3 separate regions of the Homo sapiens genome follow, and all the other regions are linked to region 1. Evidence: fine-mapped expression QTL. A gene starts in region 1. Each other region holds a variant in brackets. All regions are shown on one strand. Distances are between the middles of the regions. Region 1 holds the start of PVALB (parvalbumin). Region 2 overlaps NCF4-AS1 (NCF4 antisense RNA 1). Region 3 overlaps NCF4-AS1 (NCF4 antisense RNA 1).

Region 1 (2,758 bases):
GCATATCTGAGTCAGCAGCCCAGCTGGGGACAAGGTGCAGAGGTGACGGCAGTAGCAGCAGGGTCCAGGGCAGCTGAGGGGTCCTGGGAAGTCCTGGAGCTGAGAGGCATCAGGTCAGGAGCTGCATCCTTGGTGCCTTGGAAGCCATCTGGCGGGCTGTGGCTTGAAGGAGCTGACTCACAGGGAGGGGGCAGCTGGAGCCAGCAGAGGTATCCTAAGGTTTCCAGGAAGGGCAGCCATCCAGGGCTGAGCTGCAGGAGACAATGTTGACAGCGATGTCAGGGAACTTGAGTTACTGGGCAGCTGGACAGCTGCTCTCCCTGGTCCCCACCACCCAGGGCCACCACAGCCCAAGGCCCTGCCTACCTGCCAATACCTTAAGTTGCAGTCCCCAGGTCCCACTACATGGGACCACTGACGTCATCAACACATCAGAAGGAGACAGAAGCCCAGAGAAGGTCACAACCCAAGGTCACACTGGGACTTAGTGCAGCCCAGGATCTAGAACCCAGGCCTCCTGACTCCCTGTCCAGCGCTCACACACTCTAGAAGCAGCTGGTTGCAGCTTGAAACCTTGGGAACCATGGGGAAGAACACAACGGGTCTCTGGCTGCATACAGATAGGCACCGTGACATTTTTCCAGAGGTGAAGTTCAGACCCCTACACCTGCTTAGGTTGTCTAGAAAGTGTGGTCTGAAGGTGCTACCCTTCTTCCAAACACATATGGGGCTTTCTGGGAGGGAGCATAGCAATTCCAAGCGGACTCTCCCACCCTACTCTGCCCAAAAAAGGTTTATAGGAGTAGGGGGAGTCTGGACCCATGATGCCAGGACCCAGGAGACCAGGAAAGCAAGTAGTTAGTAGAGATCTGAGAAGTGTTCTTCGAAAAATCAAGCCAGCAAAAAAATAAAAAATAAAAGTAAAACATCAAATCAGGTTTTAGAATATGCATCCCTGGCCAGATGTGGGATGGGGCACCCGAAGTGGGCCCCAGCAGCTCCTGCCTGTCCCTGTCCCTGTCCCTGCCACCTCCTCCCTGCGTCGGGTGGGTCAGGTTTCAGGACCTCAGCGCTCAGATTTTGCAGCATAAATTTGCATCCAGGACAGACCAGAGCAGAGGCTGAGGTAGGAGTGGAGAGAGAAAGGGAGCAGGGCCTAGGAGGTCCTGAGGTGCAGGCTGGCCGCTGAAGGTTCAGGATCTTCCCCCACGCGGCAGGACATCCGCCAAGGTTCCCAGATCTGAGACGGCGCACCTCCTGCGTGTCCTTGACGGCAGGTGGACTTTCCAGACCCAGCTGGTGACGCCAGTGCCCCCTAAATCCCAGAGGTGGCCCCTTCCCTCGTGCCCTGGCCGCAGCCCCTGGGATCCCGCGGACCCCTGGCCTGGCGGTGCAGGAGTGGTAGCAGGTCCGCGCGCCTTCTTGCCGGCGGCCGGCGCTGCTCAGCGGCGCGGCTGGACTGAGCCGCTCCCGCTGCGCTCAGAGTCCGGGCCCCTGGCGCCATGCCAGGCCCGGCGGGCGTGCGCCCGGCGCGCAGCACTGCAGCGCTGGTCATATGAGCAGAAATGATGAGAAAAGCACTTTTTAATCTTTTCGCACTTGCTCTGCCCGCTCAAACAGTTGCAGGATGTCGATGACAGACTTGCTGAACGCTGAGGACATCAAGAAGGCGGTGGGAGCCTTTAGCGGTGAGCAAGCGCGCTCCCCTCCCCATCCCTCTCCCCTCGTCCACCGCCCGCGCCCCTGCACTCCGCCGGCCCCGCAGCCGGCGGATCCTCCCCAGCGCGCTTCTGCCCACACTTCCCGCTGGGCGCCGGCGAGGTCGGGGCGGGGGCGTCCTTGGCAGTTCCCAAACTCTGTCCGGGCGAGGCTTGGCGCGGGGAGCGGGCGGGGAAGAGGGCGCCCCGCCTAAGTTACAGAAACTTGAGGGTGCTGAAGGCCCGGTGGCTGGGAGGACTCAGGGTCCGGGACCAAGGGCGAAGACCAGGGTCGGAGGAGAGACCTCCAGGGTCCTTGTACGAGCTCTCTGGACGTCCTCTTTAAGGCACTTAGAGGGGACTGCAGGGGGCATCCTCCTCTCCAAGAGACCCCTTTCCTGGACCCTCATTCTGGACAGGACTTTTCCCGCCAGGCGGTAGCCTTTGTTGGCCCCCTGACTGTCCTAGTTCCTTTACTGAGATTCAGCAACGGACCTGCGGGCGAGGTGACCTTCTGGAGCCGGCGCACAGCTCTGCCTAAGCCCGCACGGGGCATCCTCAGTGCCTCAAACCTCCAGCCTCCTTAGGCGGGCAGGGGAGGGGAACTGGCAGTCTCACCTCTCCCAGCTGCCCGGGACTTCAGCGCTAAGCTGCCCGCCTTCCTCCTCCCCTGTCCTCCAGATGGGGAAATCAGGGAACTGTCTTGGAGAGGACAAGACATTTGCCCAAGGTCACCTAGCTGGGCAGAAGGGGTATTAGAACTGGGTTGCCCAGCCTAGTGTCGGAGGTGGACAGGGCAACTTTCCTTGTCTCTAGCCCTGTGCTGAGGGGAAGAGAACATGACTTCAACAGCCATTCCCTACACACACACACACACACACACACACACAAAATACATGATCTAACATTGTACCCTTCCCCAGGTGTTCTAAAACAGGACCCCAAGATACAGAAAATTGCAGGTAGAAAAGGACCCCCATTTCCTTTCTGCTTTGCACCCCCTCCCCTGGGCACAAGAACCTCTCTGGGAAGCCACCCTCCCAGGGTCCTGGGATAACCCT
Region 2 (2,758 bases), 36 kb before region 1:
AGTTGTGTAACCAGCACCACAATCATTATATAGGACATTTCCATTATCTCAAAAGATCCCTCAGGACACTTTGCAGCCAATCTCCTTCCCCTACCCCCAGGCCCTGGCAATGACTGATCCACTTTCTATCACAGTATTTTGCCATTTCTGAAATTTCGGACAAAACCACAGAGTATGTGATCTTTTGTGCCTGTTTTTTTTCACATAGTATAACGCTTTTGAAATTCATGAGTGTTGATATGTACATCGGTATTCATTCTTTTTATTGTCAAGTAGTATTTTATTGTATGGATATAACATAAGTTGTTTTCCATGCACAAGTTCATAAACATTAGGGTTTTTTTTTTGTTTTCCAGTTTGGGGCTGTTAAAACAAAGGGGCTACAAACATCAAGCATAAATGTTTGAGTGAGCATGTGCCTTCATTTCTCTTGGGTAAATATCTAAGAGAGAGTTGCTGGGTCATATGGTAGATGCATATTTAACTTTATAGGAAAACTGTTTTCCAGGTCGGGTGTGGTGGCTCACGCCTGTAATCCCAGCACTTTGGGAGGCCGAGGTGGGTGAATCACCTGAGGTCAGGAGTTCGAGACCAGCCTGGCCAACATGGTGAAGCCCCATCTCTATTAAAAATACAAAAATTAGCCACGCATGGTGGTGGGCACCTGTAATCCCAATTACTCGGGAGGCTGAGGCAGGAGAATCCCTTGAACCCAGGAGAGATTTCAGCAAGCTGAGATCGCGTCACTGCACCCCACCCTGGGCGACAGAGCGAGACTCGGTCTAAAAACAAACAAACAAACAAACAAACAAACAAACAAACAAACAAAAAGAAGGAAACTGTTTTCCAAAGTGGTTGAATCATTTTGCATTCCCCCTGACCCATGTATCAGAAGACAGAGGCTCCAGAGTACCCGGTGTGCACTGGCTCAGAGGCAGTGGCCCCAGGTCTGCACAGACTGGGGGTCTAAATGAGTCATAGCCTTGGGGCTGGTTATTAAATGATTTTCTCCCAGCTCCAAACCTTTCTTCTACCCTCTGCTTTGTGGTGCCCGAGCTGGGACTCAAAACCCTGTTTGTTCTGCTTTGCTGGCTGATTTCCGCTGCCCTTGGCCAGGAGGGGGCGCTGGAGGGAGGCCGGAAGGATGGGAGAGGAAGGAGGGGCTTGCTTCTTTCTCTTTGCAGGCGGGACCCAACTGCCCTGCCCTGGAAGCCATGTTGGCCCAGCAGCAGTTGATTCTAGGTTTTAGTTTTTTTCACATTCCCAGAGCCAGTCTCACCCCACCCCCTCCTCAGAGGTCTGCAGTTCTGAGTCCCAGCTCCTCCCCGCAGGTCTAAGTCTCCTCCTCCAAGCTTCCAGGCTAGCGTAACCCCGCTCTCTTCCTTCCGTTCCCACAGCCGCAGGGG[T/C]GATGGCTGCTTCCTGAAGTTTCTATCTCTGGTGACCTCGGTGTCTCCTTCTGCCTTTTCAGTCTAACAGAATCTGTTCAAGCAGTCTCCTTTATAGAATTCTCACTTTAAAAATTATTCATTTGCTTTCTGTGTCACCAAACCTAGCCAGCCTAGCAGGCTGCAAGGCCCAGCTCCCAGCCCCAGGGTGTCCCAAGGGAAGCAAGGCAATAAGGCAGAAAGAGCTCTCACTCTTTGGCTATGAACTCTCAGACATCTCCCTCAAGCACTCCGAGCTTCAGGTTATTTATCTGCAAAATGCATCCAAATAGAGCCTAATATAAATGAGGGCTTAATAAATATTTGAGGGAGGAAGTGGAAGAAGGAGGTATTTTATATCCGTTATTGATACCTACTTCATTTGAGCATGTTACAAATTTTTTTCTAATACTCTGCAGGGAATGCCAAATCCTTCCCCTGTGCACTCTGTCTTTATTCTTCTTGATAAGGTGTAGCAGAGACTGCTAATATCCCCTACGATCCACTCTGTCCTTTCTCCTTTAGTGATAAAGTCCCTGAGTTGTGGCTGGACTCATGGCCACCCAGCTAAAGAGAACATTTCCCAGCCTACCTTGCAGCTCCCTGTGGCCATGTGACCAGTTGCTGGCCAATAGAATGGGAGGGGAGGCCATGGACATGCTATCAGGCTGTGTCGTGAAAGACAGAAGGTGTATCTTCCATTTCCCATCTCCCCTTCCAGCTGGCTGGAGAGGCCAGCTATGGAGAACAGTTAAGCAACAAAACAGCTTGGATCTCTGACCCTGCTTCTGTTCAGATTTTTCAGGGAGAAAGAAATTTCTATTGTGTTTTAGCAGCTGATTCTTTGATGCTTGTTACAGCAGCTGAACCTGTACCCTACCCAGTACACTGGAGCAGGGATTGGCAAATGCTTTCTTTTCATTTTCTTTCTTTCATTTTTTTTTTTTAAGTTGGAGTCTCGCTCTGTCACCTAGGCTGGAGTGCAGTGGTGCAATCTCAGCTCACTGCAACCTCTGCCTCCCGGATTCAAGCCATTCTCATACCTCAGCCTCCTGAGTAGCTAGGATTACAGACATCTGCCACCACGCCCCGCTAATTTTTGTATTTTTAGTGGAGATGAGGTTTCAACATGTTGGCAGGCTGGTCTCAAACTTCTGGCCTCAAGTGATCCACCTGCTTCAGCCTCCTAAAGTGCTGGGATTGCAGGTGTGAGCTACTGCACCCAGCTGAAAAATAATTTCTAAAAAACGCCAGATAGTAAATAGTTTAGGCTTTGCAGGGAGTTGGTCTCTGTCACAACTGCTGAATTCTGCTGTCACAGCACAAAAGCAGCC
Region 3 (2,758 bases), 42 kb before region 1:
TGTGATCTCTTAGGCCCAGAGTAAATGCCACCTCCTCCAGGAAGCCCTCCTGGTTCCTCTGGCCTCTGTCTTCCTAGAGTGTGAAGTTTGGTTTGCGCGCCCTGGCACTCTGGGATATCCTTTCCTCATCCTTAGATCTCCATGCCCAGCCAATCCTCTTTCACAGGGCTGCCAATCAGAGTGAGTTTCACCCTCCCTGCTTAAACTCTCCTGCCCCATCACCCTGTGCTCAGGATAAAGTCCAGAGTCCTTGCCCTGCCTGCCTCCAATGCCCCTGAGGCCCTGCAGCCTTCCCCAGCCTCTGCTCCTGAGCTCCCTTTTTCTCACTGGCCTCCTTTCCGTTTCTAGAATGTTCTAAGACGTCCGCCCCAAGGCCTATGCTCATGGTGTTCCCTCTGCTGGAAAAAGCTCTTCACTGCCTCCTTTGCATCTCAGCTTAGAAGCTACATCTTTAGCGAGGCCTTCCCTGACCACACACCCTAAATTAAGGCCCTCCCTACTACATTCTCTCACAGGTCCCTGCACGTCTACTGCAGAGCACTCATAACTATTGTCATCTCACATTTGTTTGTTTATCTGTATGTTTAATGACTGCCTCCTTGGCTAGCAGCGTGCCTGGCACATTGCAAGTGCTCAACCAATATTCAGTGAATGAATGAAACGCTGCCAGTCAGTGACTGCAGCTCCTAACAGGTATGGGTATTTGATTCTGAAGGGACTTCTCTGAGAAGAGGTCCACAGGAGTCATTGGCACAGCCACACCCAGTAACTCCCTGCCAGCTACACACGCTCACACACTCGTATTCATACATGCAGAGCAGAAAGTTGTTTTAAACTACTTTAAACATACAAGTCCCAGCTAAAAAAAACAAGAAAGCATAATTTTTAGGTAGGATCAAAGAGAGGGGTCAGGAATCTATACCAGGGGGAGAGGAACGTGGCCAACAGCCCATGGGAAAACCAAGATTGGATATGCATTGTTGGGCTGAGATTTTAATGCCAAATCTGGGACTAGGTACAGGCCACAGGTCCTGCTGTTAGCAGAAAGTCAAATCTGAGTTCTCAGTGTAAAGTGGGTGTCAGAACTGATTATGGGAACAGAGTTTCTCAGCCATCAGCCTAGAGTCACGGCAGGAGCTGAGGTCCTCTCACAGTCCATGGGTGGAACAAGGGACGTGTGTACCAGATCAGCCTCAAGCCTGCCCTCTGCACTGGTGTAAGGCCCCGATATAAGCTACCCACGTGGTGCAGAAATCCTAAGCTGAGGCATTATATAAAAACAGCTTGGAGTCAGTGACTCTGCAGGGCCTACTCTGTCAACTCACAGACCAAAACTACAAATCGTGAGCTGTGAAAGACAGCTCAGAGCCTCCACATCATGAAGAATTCACACCCAAAGAACTAGAAATAATACAAACAATAAGTCTGATGAGTTGCTGGTGTCTCGGGGCTCCCAGGCTAGAGGATGAAATGAAACACAGA[G/AAGAG]CAGGGTTATTAGTGCAGGTGTCTGTAAGTACCAACAGGTGCAAGCACACAGCCATAACTGAGGGAAGAGGAGGACATTGGCCTACAGTTGGTCAGGAAGGACAGGAAGTGGCAAAACAATTTTAGCAAGCAAGCATGATACAGAATTTGTAGGTGATTGTGTAAACTGTGTGTGTAGTATATGCCTATAGTTGGAAACACATATTTGTGTATAAACACATACAGCTCGCATAGGCAAGTGTAAGTGCATTTGTGTTGTGTCTATAAAAGACCATATAATGTGTATAGTGGTGGCATTGTGGCTGTGAGAGAATGTGTTTAGATGTTTAGGTTGCAGTCGGTGACAAATGAGTATAAACACAAGTACATTTATAATAGGTGAACTCAGGCAAGATAACATGTCCTTTTTGAACCTTTCTTCTTCACCAATCTGTGAAACAGTCTTGCCTAATGGAGTTGTAGTAGGAATTAATAGAAAACTGTATAAAAGTGCCTAGACACATGGACATTTCTTATTCCTTTTTTAATCGTTTTCAGTGTGTATATCTGTATGTGTGTGTTTCAGGTGGGTTAAGCCCTCAAGTTTACCTTCCCAGGTATTTTCATGGCTTGCCCTCCAAACCCCGGCCCCCCCAACCCCCCAAGAAACCTCCTGTGGCCCTGACTCAGCCACTGGGAAGCCACCTCTGCACCTGGGGGACAAAGATGTCCAGGGAAGAGCCCGCGACGGGCCAGCTCTTCCCCTCCTCCCCTCTTTCTCTCCTTTTCTTCTGTCCCTGCCCGTGGTTCTGCTGAATACAGGTATTTCTCTGTCTCCTCATACACAGAACGCTGCTGCCAATTTTATGCCCGAGCTCTGATACAGTGTAATTTGAGGCCAGGCACTCTGTCAGCAATGGGCTCCTGTCCTGCCGCTGCAGCAATGCCTGTACCTTCTACTCCCACTCCAGAACCGGGCTCTTGCTGCTCCTGCTGCAGGGGGAGAATGAGGCAGAGGGATGACCTGGAAGAGGAGCCAAGCTCTTCACACGTTCCATTAAACAAGTATGGATGGAATCTTTTTTGGATAAGTGCAAAGAAATGCCTGAAGTGACCTCTCACTTATGGAGACCTGATTTTTGATAACCTCCACATCCCACAGCCTGTGAATAAACCAAAAAAAGAGAAAAGCCATTGAATGGTTAGAATTGATAGCTCAAAGTCTATGCATTGACACTGGCATATTTTATTCACAGAAGAAATATAAAAGGAGCCTGGTCCTCTCTTCCTGCCAACT

What was found. PIP is the estimated chance that this variant, and not a neighbour inherited with it, causes the effect.
Region 2: its variant is fine-mapped to the expression of PVALB in whole blood (INTERVAL, PIP above 0.99).
Region 3: its variant is fine-mapped to the expression of PVALB in whole blood (INTERVAL, PIP above 0.99).

What each region holds. Positions count from the first base shown.
Region 1 is chr22:36,815,875-36,818,632 of GRCh38, reverse strand. It overlaps PVALB (parvalbumin), which reads left to right and starts at 1,598. Exons shown (of 4, transcript NM_001315532.2): 1 at 1,598-1,688. The coding sequence starts at 1,628.
Region 2 is chr22:36,852,056-36,854,813 of GRCh38, reverse strand. All of the region lies in intron 1 of NCF4-AS1 (NCF4 antisense RNA 1), which reads left to right. Among named protein-coding and RNA genes, the nearest start is that of NCF4, 7.6 kb to the left of the region's middle. The variant T/C (reference allele first, on the strand shown) is at 1,407.
Region 3 is chr22:36,857,918-36,860,675 of GRCh38, reverse strand. All of the region lies in intron 1 of NCF4-AS1 (NCF4 antisense RNA 1), which reads left to right. Among named protein-coding and RNA genes, the nearest start is that of NCF4, 1.7 kb to the left of the region's middle. The variant G/AAGAG (reference allele first, on the strand shown) is at 1,483.